Linked DNA regions of Homo sapiens: region 1 is linked to region 2. The links come from fine-mapping of genetic effects on gene expression. A gene starts in region 2. The other region holds a variant in brackets. All regions are shown on one strand. Distances are from middle to middle. Region 1 has its middle 87 kb from the start of MIR4290HG. Region 2 holds the start of GADD45G (growth arrest and DNA damage inducible gamma).

Region 1 (5,368 bases), 520 kb after region 2:
GCAATTCAAACAACAGGCTACTTGCATTGCTCTGAATCCTCCACAAAGCCCCAGGAGAGAAGCAGCTGAATTTTCCTGTCCCTGAGCCCTGAAGTTTCTGTCTAAACATGAAGCAGGTGAGCAAGCACTGAGAATTAATTACCCCTTTTGCCACATACATTATATCATTTCCTTATGATCTCCTTCTGGGTCTACGATATGAACGTCTTCCAAATTAGACCTTTCTCCAGAGTGCTGCTTAATTCCCAAATATTGTTTGGTTCATTTTCATGTGGACATATTATTATTATAATGCTTTTATAGTAAGGTGCAGGGTCAAGTTACAAGGTCAAAAAGAGCGTGAATATGTAATAAAGCTTCATGAGACGCTATATGCTGTTGGGGACCATCTCTATAGTGATGAAAAGAATGAGAGGCACTCTCCAGTTTCGCCTATTTTCCCTCCTTGCTTTTTCTCTCCCTTTCCAAGATTAGATTCTCTTGAATTTATGTATTTTAATTCTCAGTTTCTCTTCTCTAATCCTGATGCATTTTTCCCTTCTCCTGTTCAACAGATTTTTCTCTGGTTAATGCTTTCTATTCAACATACAGAATTCTAGATTGGAAGTGGTGATTTTAAGACTGAAATGATTTTATTGTCTTCTGGTATCTATTGCCACTAATGACAAATCTGCTAATTGCCAGTCCTTTGTGGGTCTTTTTTCTCTGGTAGTTTTAAAAACTTTTTTTTCTTTAATAGCCTTTTGCTTTACCCCAATATGACTAGGCTAATTTTTCTTTACCTTGTTATTCATTTCTTCCTCCAGTCTGAAAAATTCTCAGTGAGTTTTTCAAACATGAGTTTATATCTTCAACTGTTTTCTCTTTCTGTGCTGTGTAGGCAGATATTATTTAGTTTATCTTCTTATTTACTGAATATTCCCTCCCTTCCCTCCCTCCCTCCCTCCCTTCCTTTCTCTCTCTCTCTCTCTTTCTTTCTTTCTTTCTTTCTTTCTTTCTTTCTTTCTTTCTTTCTTTCTTTCTTTCCCTCAGATGGAGTCTCGCTCTGTTGCCCAGGCTGGAGTGCAGTGGTGCGATCTTGGCTCACTATAAGCTCCGCCTCCCAGATTCATGCCATTCTCCTGCATCAGCCTTCTGAGTACCTGGGACTACAGGCACCCACCACCATGCCCAGCTAATTATTTTGAATTTTTAGTAGAGATGGGGTTTCACCATGTTAGCCAGGATGGTCTCGATCTCCTGACCTCGTGATCCACCCACCTCGGCCTCCCAAAGTGCTGGGATTACAGGAGTGAGCCACCACACCTGGCCTGAATATTCTTTCTTTTAAAGAGAAAAATGATAGATAATGTTTATACTGTCTTTCAAGAGTTTTTTAAATTTCAATGACTATATTTGCCATTTCTAACATTTCTAATTGATTACTTTTTAGGTACACATGTTCCCTGTGCTTTCCTTCATAATATTTTTCAATGCAGCTATATCCCTCTTTTGTCTTTCAGAAGATATGAAAAAATTATATTACAGCTGTAATATACAGCTGTGTTGGGCTACTTTGCTAGTCTTGAGTGAATACTCTGCTGTATTTGCTGCCTGGTTAGTGTTGGTTTCTGCTGTGTGGTCAGAATTTTATTTTGCAAATGCATCTTGAAGAAGAAATTTTAGTTTTTTCTCTGTAATCACCCCAGATGTTTTAGAAGCTTCATTATTGCTCTCATCACCTTATCCCTATGGCTTCATAAAGGCCACAGTTCCTGTATGGACAGCCTGAGCTTCCTGTCCTGGAGTGACACTCAGTATATCTGAGATCAAGTTCTCGAGGTAGCAGTGGCTTGGCCAGGTCCTGGCACTATGCATGTGTCTGCTGAGCAGCCTGTGCCCTCCGCTCCCCGGGTATGGCCTGTGTCACCAGCGCTAGCTTCAGCAGCCTTATGCAGTACACCTAGTTCTCATCCTCCACACAAACAGCGTGCTTTCAGTGTGGTTGTCTCTCAGGAGTGTAAGAGATCACACCTCTGTCTCTTTCCACTTCTGAAGGCTATGAGGCTGCAGCTTGCTGTCTCAGGCCTCAAGCTTCCCTCTATGTTTCTGACCCATTTCTGATCCATGAAACTATGTGTGCCTGTTTTTACCTTATTTTTTGTGTTACCTATGATTTCTATGTGGGCGAAGGAGGTAGGATTAAATGCTTGATCTCACAGTGCCATTCTGAGAGGTTTTCAGCCTCTCTATTCTGAATGAGTTTAGCAGCCTCCCCACCCCCCAGCACACATGAAAGGAGGGGGCTCAGAGGGTCTCTTAGGTCCCCAGTGCCAAGGGTTTGGGTGTGATGAAGGACATGATTCCGGTCAGTGCCTCAATCACAAACAGGGCAGGGCAAGAGGGTGCACAAAGTTTGGTGTGACCTGTCCCCATAAATGGAGAAGCAACTCAAATCCCACATCCTGCCCCAAGGCATGAAGAGATAGGTGGGAAAGCAGCCCTTCTCCTCTCCTGGAGGAGGCTCCTCAGTGCCAGCGACAGGATGCTCTGTCCCTGGTATGGACTACTGTTCCCACTGCCCATGTACATAGTAAGCCGTGTGCTATAAAAAGCAACCCATATAAACAGTCACTGAATCGCCTGTTGAATTGGGAACATTCCTGCTGATTAACCTGAAAGCTTTTTCCAATTGAAGATTGGCATAGGGGTTGAAAATATAGAATGTATTCAGTTTTACATTGTTTAGAGTACTCTAAAAAAAATCCCTTTAAAAATGTCTTCAGGCGAGCGTTTTGGAGCACACAATAAACAGCAGATAAAAAGGACAGTATTTCCCAGGAAATCGAAGTTGACATATTTGTTTTCAGTTGCTATTTATGACATGTTGGGAATTGTTCCTCTTTATTTGTGGTTGTATAACAACCCACAATCTAGTTCTCTCACTCTGACCTAATTCCAGAGGTCTGCATGTCCTTCCCCAAGAAGGGCTGGGCTCCTCCTGTCTGACCACTACCTGGCCTTGATTAGTGTGACCTTCTTTTGTAGCTAGGCGCCAGCCATGTGGGGTTGACCCTTATTAGTGGCCATCTCAGGCCATAGAGGGCATGTATTTGTTCATTCCTCAGGACTGATTGTCTGGGAATATGAAGGTCTTTCAAAATTATGCTCCAGATGGAATAGAACCTGGACCAAGTTCTTTCTGCAGTGATAACTAGTAATGGAGTGGTAAACTGTGTGCAAATGGATGGAATCTAGCATCATGGAGGTCCTTATGCATGAACAGCTTGATAACACAGATTAGCAAACACAGAGACCACTCGTCTTATGGTCAGCAGTAAAGTGGACATTGTGCC[G/A]ATGGAAGTGATCTTCTGGCTTCCATATCTGAAGGACAGATGGCTCGGCTCTGGAAACAGAAGAGCAGAGGGCATGTTTGCTGAGAGAAAACAGGCTGGCATTGCTGCGGAGTGGCCCATTCAATGCAAGGTAGATTCATGGAGAGGAGGGTATATGAGCTGGTGGCACTCTGGCACATCCAGATGATTAAACCAACAGGAAAGTTCTGGCTGGGTGCTCAGGAGTGAAATCCAGGGAAAGGCAGGGATTTGGCAGGATTCCATTAGAGAATATTCAGGAAATGAGGGAAAGAGGCTTTGGGGACCATGCAATAAGAAGACCAAAAGAGGCAGCAGGTCAAGAAAGGAGGCAGAAAGAATGGAGGAGAACCCACGAAACAGAGATCCATGGAGGCTGCGTGTGTGCCTAGTCACCAGAGGAGGAAAGGAGCAGGAGGGCTGGGGAAAGTTCTGCCCTTGTTGAGGTTTCTGTCCAATTCTGGAAGAAGAATTTCAATCAAACTGCAGAGCTGGAGGACAGATTGGGAGGAAGCTGAAATGAATGCAGATAACTACTTTAATATTTGGACAGGAAGGAGAAGCTATCAGGAGACAGGCATCAGGACGTGAAAAATGTTCACTTTAGAACTGCTTTCATGGCCTTTTAGAACAGTCCTGAGCATAATTTACACAGGAGACACCATGCACAACGGGGAAGGAGAAACCCAACATGAAGATAACATATGAAGGAGGAGAGGGAAGGGAGGCAGCCTGGCCTAACTGACACATTAGCACCCAGGATTGAGAGGTCAGAAATAAGTAGCATGAGCATGCATGCCAACCTTGGAAAAGCGAGGGGGGATGAAAAACAAATCAATGAGTGCAAAGTAGTTTTATTATTATTATTATTATTATACTTTAAGTTCTGGGGTACATGTGCAGAACGTGCAGGTTTGTTACATAGGTATACACGTGCCATGGTGGTTTGCTGCACCCATCAACCAGTCATCTACATTAGGTATTTCTCCTAATGCTATCCCTCCTCTAGCACCCCCAACCCCCGACAGGCCCTGGTGTGTGATGTTCCCCTCCCTGTTTCCATGTGTTCTCATTGTTCAACTCCCACTTATGCGTGAGAACATGTGGTATTTGGTTTTCTGTTCCTGTGTTACTTTGCTGAGAAGGATGGTTTCCAGCTTCATCCATGTCCCTACAAAGGACATGAACTCATCCTTTTTATGGCTGTATAGTATTCCACAGTGTACATATGCAATTTTAAATTAGAAAAGAGAAATGAGGACAGCTAGGTGACTTCTGAACATCCCTGGAATGATAAAGAAGCCCATAGATTTACAGCAGTGCTATCCAGTGTAACTTTGTGGGGTGATGGAAATGTCCCTTCTGCACTGCCCAGCGTGGTAACCACTAGCACCGTGTGCCACTAGTGAGTGCTCAAAATGAGGCTAGTGAGACAGAGGATTGAAATTATTTTAAATGTGAGGTGGTTTATGCCTGCAATCCCAGTGTTTTGGGAGGCCGAGGCGGAAAGATTGCTTGAATCCAGAAGTTCAAGCCCAGCTTGGGCAGCATAGTGAGACCCTGTCTCTACAAAAATGAACAAAATTAGCCGACTGTGGTGGCATGTACCTATAGTCCCAGTTACCCAGGAGGCTGAGGTGGGAGGATTTCTTGAGTCTGGGAGGTCAAGGCTGCAGTGAGCCGAGATTGTGTCACTTCACTCCTGCCTGGATGACAGAGCTAGACCGTGTCTCAAAAAAAAGAAAAGGAAAAAAAAAGTAAAAAGACAAATGTGGTGAGTGGCTGTCACGTTGTACAATGTAGGTGAGATATCAAAATCACCTCGTTCCAGGGTGGTGGCTCTCGAGAGCCACTAACTCTTCTCTGCAGGATGCAAGTGTCCGCAGCAGCCCTCCTGCTCCATCCTGCCTCCCTGGTCTGCCTAGAGGAGGAGAGGAGGGCCATCCCAGTGAGGAGACCTCGCTGCCCCAAACTTAGACTTTCACCTTCTCAAAATAAGACTTCTGAGACTAATT
Region 2 (5,368 bases):
TGCATGCAATTTGGGAGAGCTGTGGCCACAAAGCCGTGTAGTGGGATATTCTGGATCCTCAAACTTCTAGTGGGCATTGCCCACTCCTCAACACAGGGGCATCCCAGGCCCAGAAGCTTCAGCATGTGTCTGAACTGAAGGGTGGTGGTGGGTCTGCTGGAAGGCCACCTTTGCCTGCAGACAAAATTGTTCTTCCCAATTGAGATGGGGGCTTTGGGGCCATTGGGACTGACATAACAAAGCAAAGTGAGGCTGTATCATATGTCAAAAAGGCAGTTTCCTGAAATTGAATACTTTAAAAATGTGAGCAGAGTAGAACAGCCCCAGGGGTCGTCAATCATCTCTTCTGGTCCAGGCTAGCTCAGGAGGGACTGGAAATGCACCCACCCCCAACTCGAAGCCGGGAGTGTTCATTAGTGGCCTTCCTCTCGGAGGAGGGGCTGAGGCTTCAGGCCTAGCCTTTGTTTTCTCTGGCCTGGCATGTAGGCAGATTTTTAGCGTCATAAATTGGAGAGGTGGGTGCTAGCATGTTAAGTAAATCTTATTTCCAGCATGTCCTGGGGACCTGGGACTAATACATTTTAAGAAATGTTTAATAGTAGGCCGGGTGCGGTTGCTCATGCCTGTAATCCCAGCACTTTGGGAGGCCGAGGTGGGTGGATCACGAGGTCAGGAGTTTGAGACCAGCCTGGCCAACATGGTGAAACTCTGTTTCTACTAAAAATACAAAAATTAGCCCGGCGTGGTGGCGCACCTGTAGTCCCAGCTACTCGGGAGGCTGAAGCAGAAGGATCGCTTGAACCCGGGAGGCGGAGGTTGCAGTGAGCCGAGATTGTGCCACCGCACTCCAGCCTGGGCAACCGAGCGAGACTCCGTCTCAAAAAAGAAAAGAAAAGAAAAGAAAAGTTTAATAGTTTTAAAAGAGTAATACCTATATTCCAATCACTTAAAATTAACATATTTTATCCAATCAAGGCATATCATCATTTTATACATCAAGAAAGAAAAGAAACTAGCGAACAAACGGGGCATAATGCCGCCTGGCTCCGCTTCCCCCTCCCCTCTCCCCCCGTCCTTAGGAGACACCTCTGGAGTTCAGAAATGCTAGGAGAGCAAGCTCTTCATTCTTAGAATCCAGGAAGGGCCGGGCTTTTGCAGCTCTCCTCTGCCAGGAAGCCGCTGGGGGGCGCAAGACGCCAGCTTCTCACCTTGGCAGAAGTGCCTGCCTGCAAGCGCAGAATGGAAACTTCCCCATAACAAATTCAGAAGTACCTTGTACATTCACCACCCACCTGAAGAAAGCCTGAATGAAAGGAACAAAGCCACGGCGTTGTTTACTTTCCCATTATCGCCCCAGTCTTGCGGCAGGGCCCGGGTTTCCATCCAATCCACCCGGCCCGCCACTGTCCTGGCCAGTCTCCAAGGCTTCACCCAAAAAAAGGAAGCAATGAGGTGTCCCCCAGCGCGCCTTTTCACGTAGCACAGAAGGTGCTCAGTGGGTGAATCCTCTGAAAGTGCCAGCGTGTATGGTCAAACGGCAGCAACCTCTAGCCTATTAAACTCTCCCAAGATCTCTTCCAGACTTATTCCATTGCCGGAAAAAAGGCTTTTTACATATGCGCATTTAAGTAATTAAGATATTTCAACATGGTATAAGACGTAGGGGCTCTTACTCCATCAGTACTGGATGGGAATTTCCTTTTGCCCTCTACTCCCCAGGGTAACTGCAGTCCCACCTGAATGCGTTTTGCAGCCCTTACTCGGGTTCTATTTATGCGCAGCTTGGACAGGGCTCACTGGGCCCGGCCGGGCAGCTCCGTGGCCGTCCCTCTCCACCGCCCTTCCCCCGCGCCAGGCCAATGCAAGGGTGTGTGTGTTGGGGGGAGGGGAGGACAAAAGGGGTTCAGGATCTTTTTAACCTGCCTGCAGATGGCGCCCCGGGAAAGATTCCGAGCTGCATTACCTAAGCTCCAGGGGCTGCAGCCGCGGGGTCCCGGCCACAGGGCGTCCAGCCGCGAAGACTGCACAGCAGCTCTCCGTCCTTCCCAACTCGCGCGGCTGTTCGGCACCCGTGCGAGGAACGGATGGAAGGGAATTACTTGTAGCAGGGCCAGTACTGGGGGCGTGCACTCAGGGACCACGGAGTGGCACTCAGCCTCGACCCCACGCGCCAGGCAGCCCGGCGACCCCCACGCGCGGCGGGGTCCTGCCCACCCCACCCGGCGGCAGGTGGACAGTGTTGCTATGAAGAGAAAGCCTCGATTGTCCCTACAGCAAACCGCCACACGCCAGACCTCTGCTATTGTGCGCCCTCCATAGAAATGCAAACGAGCGGCGTGCGCCGGCCGCAATCTGCTCGTCCCCGCCCGCCCCCGTCTCCCGCGCCCCGCCGCGCTCGGCCAAGGGCGGGGAGGTGGGGTGGGATCTTCCAGAGACGGCTCAATGTACACATTGAGTATGCCTGGCAGGCATCACCAGCGCGCTCGGGACGCTAGTGGTCAGCTGCAGGGGGCTGTGCCCACTGCCTTTTGCAAGCCTCTAACTGGCGCTACCTGTTTTTACCTTAATTTCTGGCTCCAATGCAACAGTCTCATAGACTTCAAATTAAAGAAAAGAAACAAATAGAAAGGTAGCAATACAAAATGCAAAAAAAAATCCCTTTGCTTCTATAAAGGTGCTTTTCGCAAATTGCAGCATCATATAAGCAAACAAGGTTTTTGTGGGTTGGGTTTTTTCTTTTTTTTTTTTTTTTACTTTTTCCTTTTAAGGACTTCAAAAAAAAAAAAAAGCCAGGCGAGATGAAATCTGCAGGCTCCAGTCTGCCTGGTAACACCCCAACAAAAGCGGCAGATTTGAGGCATTGTCATCCCCCGCACCCCTCCCCACGTGGCCTTCTGGCACGAGCCGCTGGCTCGCCGCCTCATTTACATCAGAAAGCGGGTGCCGGCCAATAGGCGCGCAGCCTCGCGCCAGCTGGCGGCGCCGCACCCACCAGCCTATATAAGGGCGCGCAGCGTAGTAGGGGCGCACTCGCTGGTGGTGGGCGCGCCGTGCTGAGCTCTGGCTGTCAGTGTGTTCGCCCGCGTCCCCTCCGCGCTCTCCGCTTGTGGATAACTAGCTGCTGGTTGATCGCACTATGACTCTGGAAGAAGTCCGCGGCCAGGACACAGTTCCGGAAAGCACAGCCAGGTGGGTTTCAGGGCGCTGAGAAAGCCGCTGGTCGGTCGGCGACCGTCAGGGTTTTCCAGGGTGGGAATCCGCGGGGTAGGAGGGGAGCGCGGGGGTCCGGGCGCCAGATCCCGGTTGGAGAGCCGGGGTGCAGGCGCTGAGCCGGGATTGGAGTGTGGTTGGAGTTGGGGAGCCAAGGGTGTGTGCCGGTGGCCGGGGCTGGGGTCTCCGCCGCGCCCTCCGGCCGGCTCCCGCTCACTGCGCTGGCTCCTCCGCAGGATGCAGGGTGCCGGGAAAGCGCTGCATGAGTTGCTGCTGTCGGCGCAGCGTCAGGGCTGCCTCACTGCCGGCGTCTACGAGTCAGCCAAAGTCTTGAACGTGTAAGTGTAGACGCGGCCCAGGCTGGGAGACAGGGGCGGGGGTGAATGGCGAGGAGACTGGCGGATGGGAGGGGTGGCGGCGGGAGAACTCGGCTAGCCGGTTCTGACCTAGGTCCCCGCCTTGCCCTCGCAGGGACCCCGACAATGTGACCTTCTGTGTGCTGGCTGCGGGTGAGGAGGACGAGGGCGACATCGCGCTGCAGATCCATTTTACGCTGATCCAGGCTTTCTGCTGCGAGAACGACATCGACATAGTGCGCGTGGGCGATGTGCAGCGGCTGGCGGCTATCGTGGGCGCCGGCGAGGAGGCGGGTGCGCCGGGCGACCTGCACTGCATCCTCATTTCGGTGAGTACAGTCCCGTCCTGTCCCCGCCCCAGTGTCGTTCCCGCCTCGGCCCGCGGCCAGCCAGGCTGACCCTGCTCTCTCTCCGCAGAACCCCAACGAGGACGCCTGGAAGGATCCCGCCTTGGAGAAGCTCAGCCTGTTTTGCGAGGAGAGCCGCAGCGTTAACGACTGGGTGCCCAGCATCACCCTCCCCGAGTGACAGCCCGGCGGGGACCTTGGTCTGATCGACGTGGTGACGCCCCGGGGCGCCTAGAGCGCGGCTGGCTCTGTGGAGGGGCCCTCCGAGGGTGCCCGAGTGCGGCGTGGAGACTGGCAGGCGGGGGGGGCGCCTGGAGAGCGAGGAGGCGCGGCCTCCCGAGGAGGGGCCCGGTGGCGGCAGGGCCAGGCTGGTCCGAGCTGAGGACTCTGCAAGTGTCTGGAGCGGCTGCTCGCCCAGGAAGGCCTAGGCTAGGACGTTGGCCTCAGGGCCAGGAAGGACAGACTGGCCGGGCAGGCGTGACTCAGCAGCCTGCGCTCGGCAGGAAGGAGCGGCGCCCTGGACTTGGTACAGTTGCAGGAGCGTGAAGGACTTAGCCGACTGCGCTGCTTTTTCAAAACGGATCCGGGCAATGCTTCGTTTTCTAAAGGATGCTGCTGTTGAAGCTTTGAATTTTACAATAAACTTTTTGAAACAAACTTATGCTCTTTATTGAGGGTAGGGGATCTTTGTGTCGGGGGAGGTGGCGTGCAGGGTTTCAGAGGATTGCTGGAACTCCGTGGAACTGATGGCACCTGTTCCGTCTTCCTGTCGGGCAAGAATGACAGGCTCCTCCCCTCTGGCAGAGGGAGGGCATGCTGCCCAGTGCTAGGGTAGAACTTGAGCCTGGCTCCTACTTTTCTCCTTTTAGGAAGATTTTAAACTTGCAAAACAGGAGCATACTTGAGATAAGACAGTGCAGCAGCTGAAGTCTTGCCTTCCAAGGCGATAACAGTGACCTGTGCCTCCCCTCCCCCTCCTCGGCCCTCCTCCCCCTCCCTCCTACAGCTGCTTATCTGAACAGCTTGCAGGAGGCCTCAGGCTTTCCTGCACAATGAGCATTGCCTTCTGCAGGCCCTGCCCTTTGTGGTCCCTGAGGATGGTGGCAGACTGCTCCTGCTCTTGGGGACTTTTTCCTCTTAAATGCTCTGACACAAAGCAATGCTACAAAGGTACTAATACCAAATATGACATTGATGACTGCATTTAAGTATGAGTCATTACTTTGTCATGGCTGTGATAGAACTTGGAAGATCTGAGAAAAAATTGGAAGGCAGCATCTATATAAATAGGCATGAGCAATTCTGAGGGGGCCTGGCATCTGCTATCTACTATTTTCAGTGTTCTCTGCCCACATCAGAGTTACGAGGATTGCTGCTATTCACAATTCCGTTTAAAGACTCATAGGAAAAAAAAATTAAATATTTTAAGCCAAGACTTTCTTTAAAAAGGAACTA

The links. PIP is the estimated chance that this variant, and not a neighbour inherited with it, causes the effect.
Region 1: its variant is fine-mapped to the expression of GADD45G in cerebellum (GTEx, PIP above 0.99).

The regions. Positions count from the first base shown.
Region 1 is chr9:90,126,248-90,131,615 of GRCh38, forward strand. No RefSeq gene overlaps it. Among named protein-coding and RNA genes, the nearest start is that of MIR4290HG, 87 kb to the left of the region's middle. The variant G/A (reference allele first, on the strand shown) is at 3,336.
Region 2 is chr9:89,601,986-89,607,353 of GRCh38, forward strand. GADD45G (growth arrest and DNA damage inducible gamma) reads left to right here and starts at 3,027. Exons shown (of 4, transcript NM_006705.4): 1 at 3,027-3,189; 2 at 3,447-3,548; 3 at 3,682-3,895; 4 at 3,984-4,570. The coding sequence starts at 3,137. The coding sequence ends at 4,094. LOC105376139 (a long non-coding RNA gene) reads right to left here and starts at 3,031. Exons shown (of 2, transcript XR_930105.3): 1 at 755-3,031. RefSeq lists an enhancer at 1,838-2,736 and a silencer at 2,347-2,396.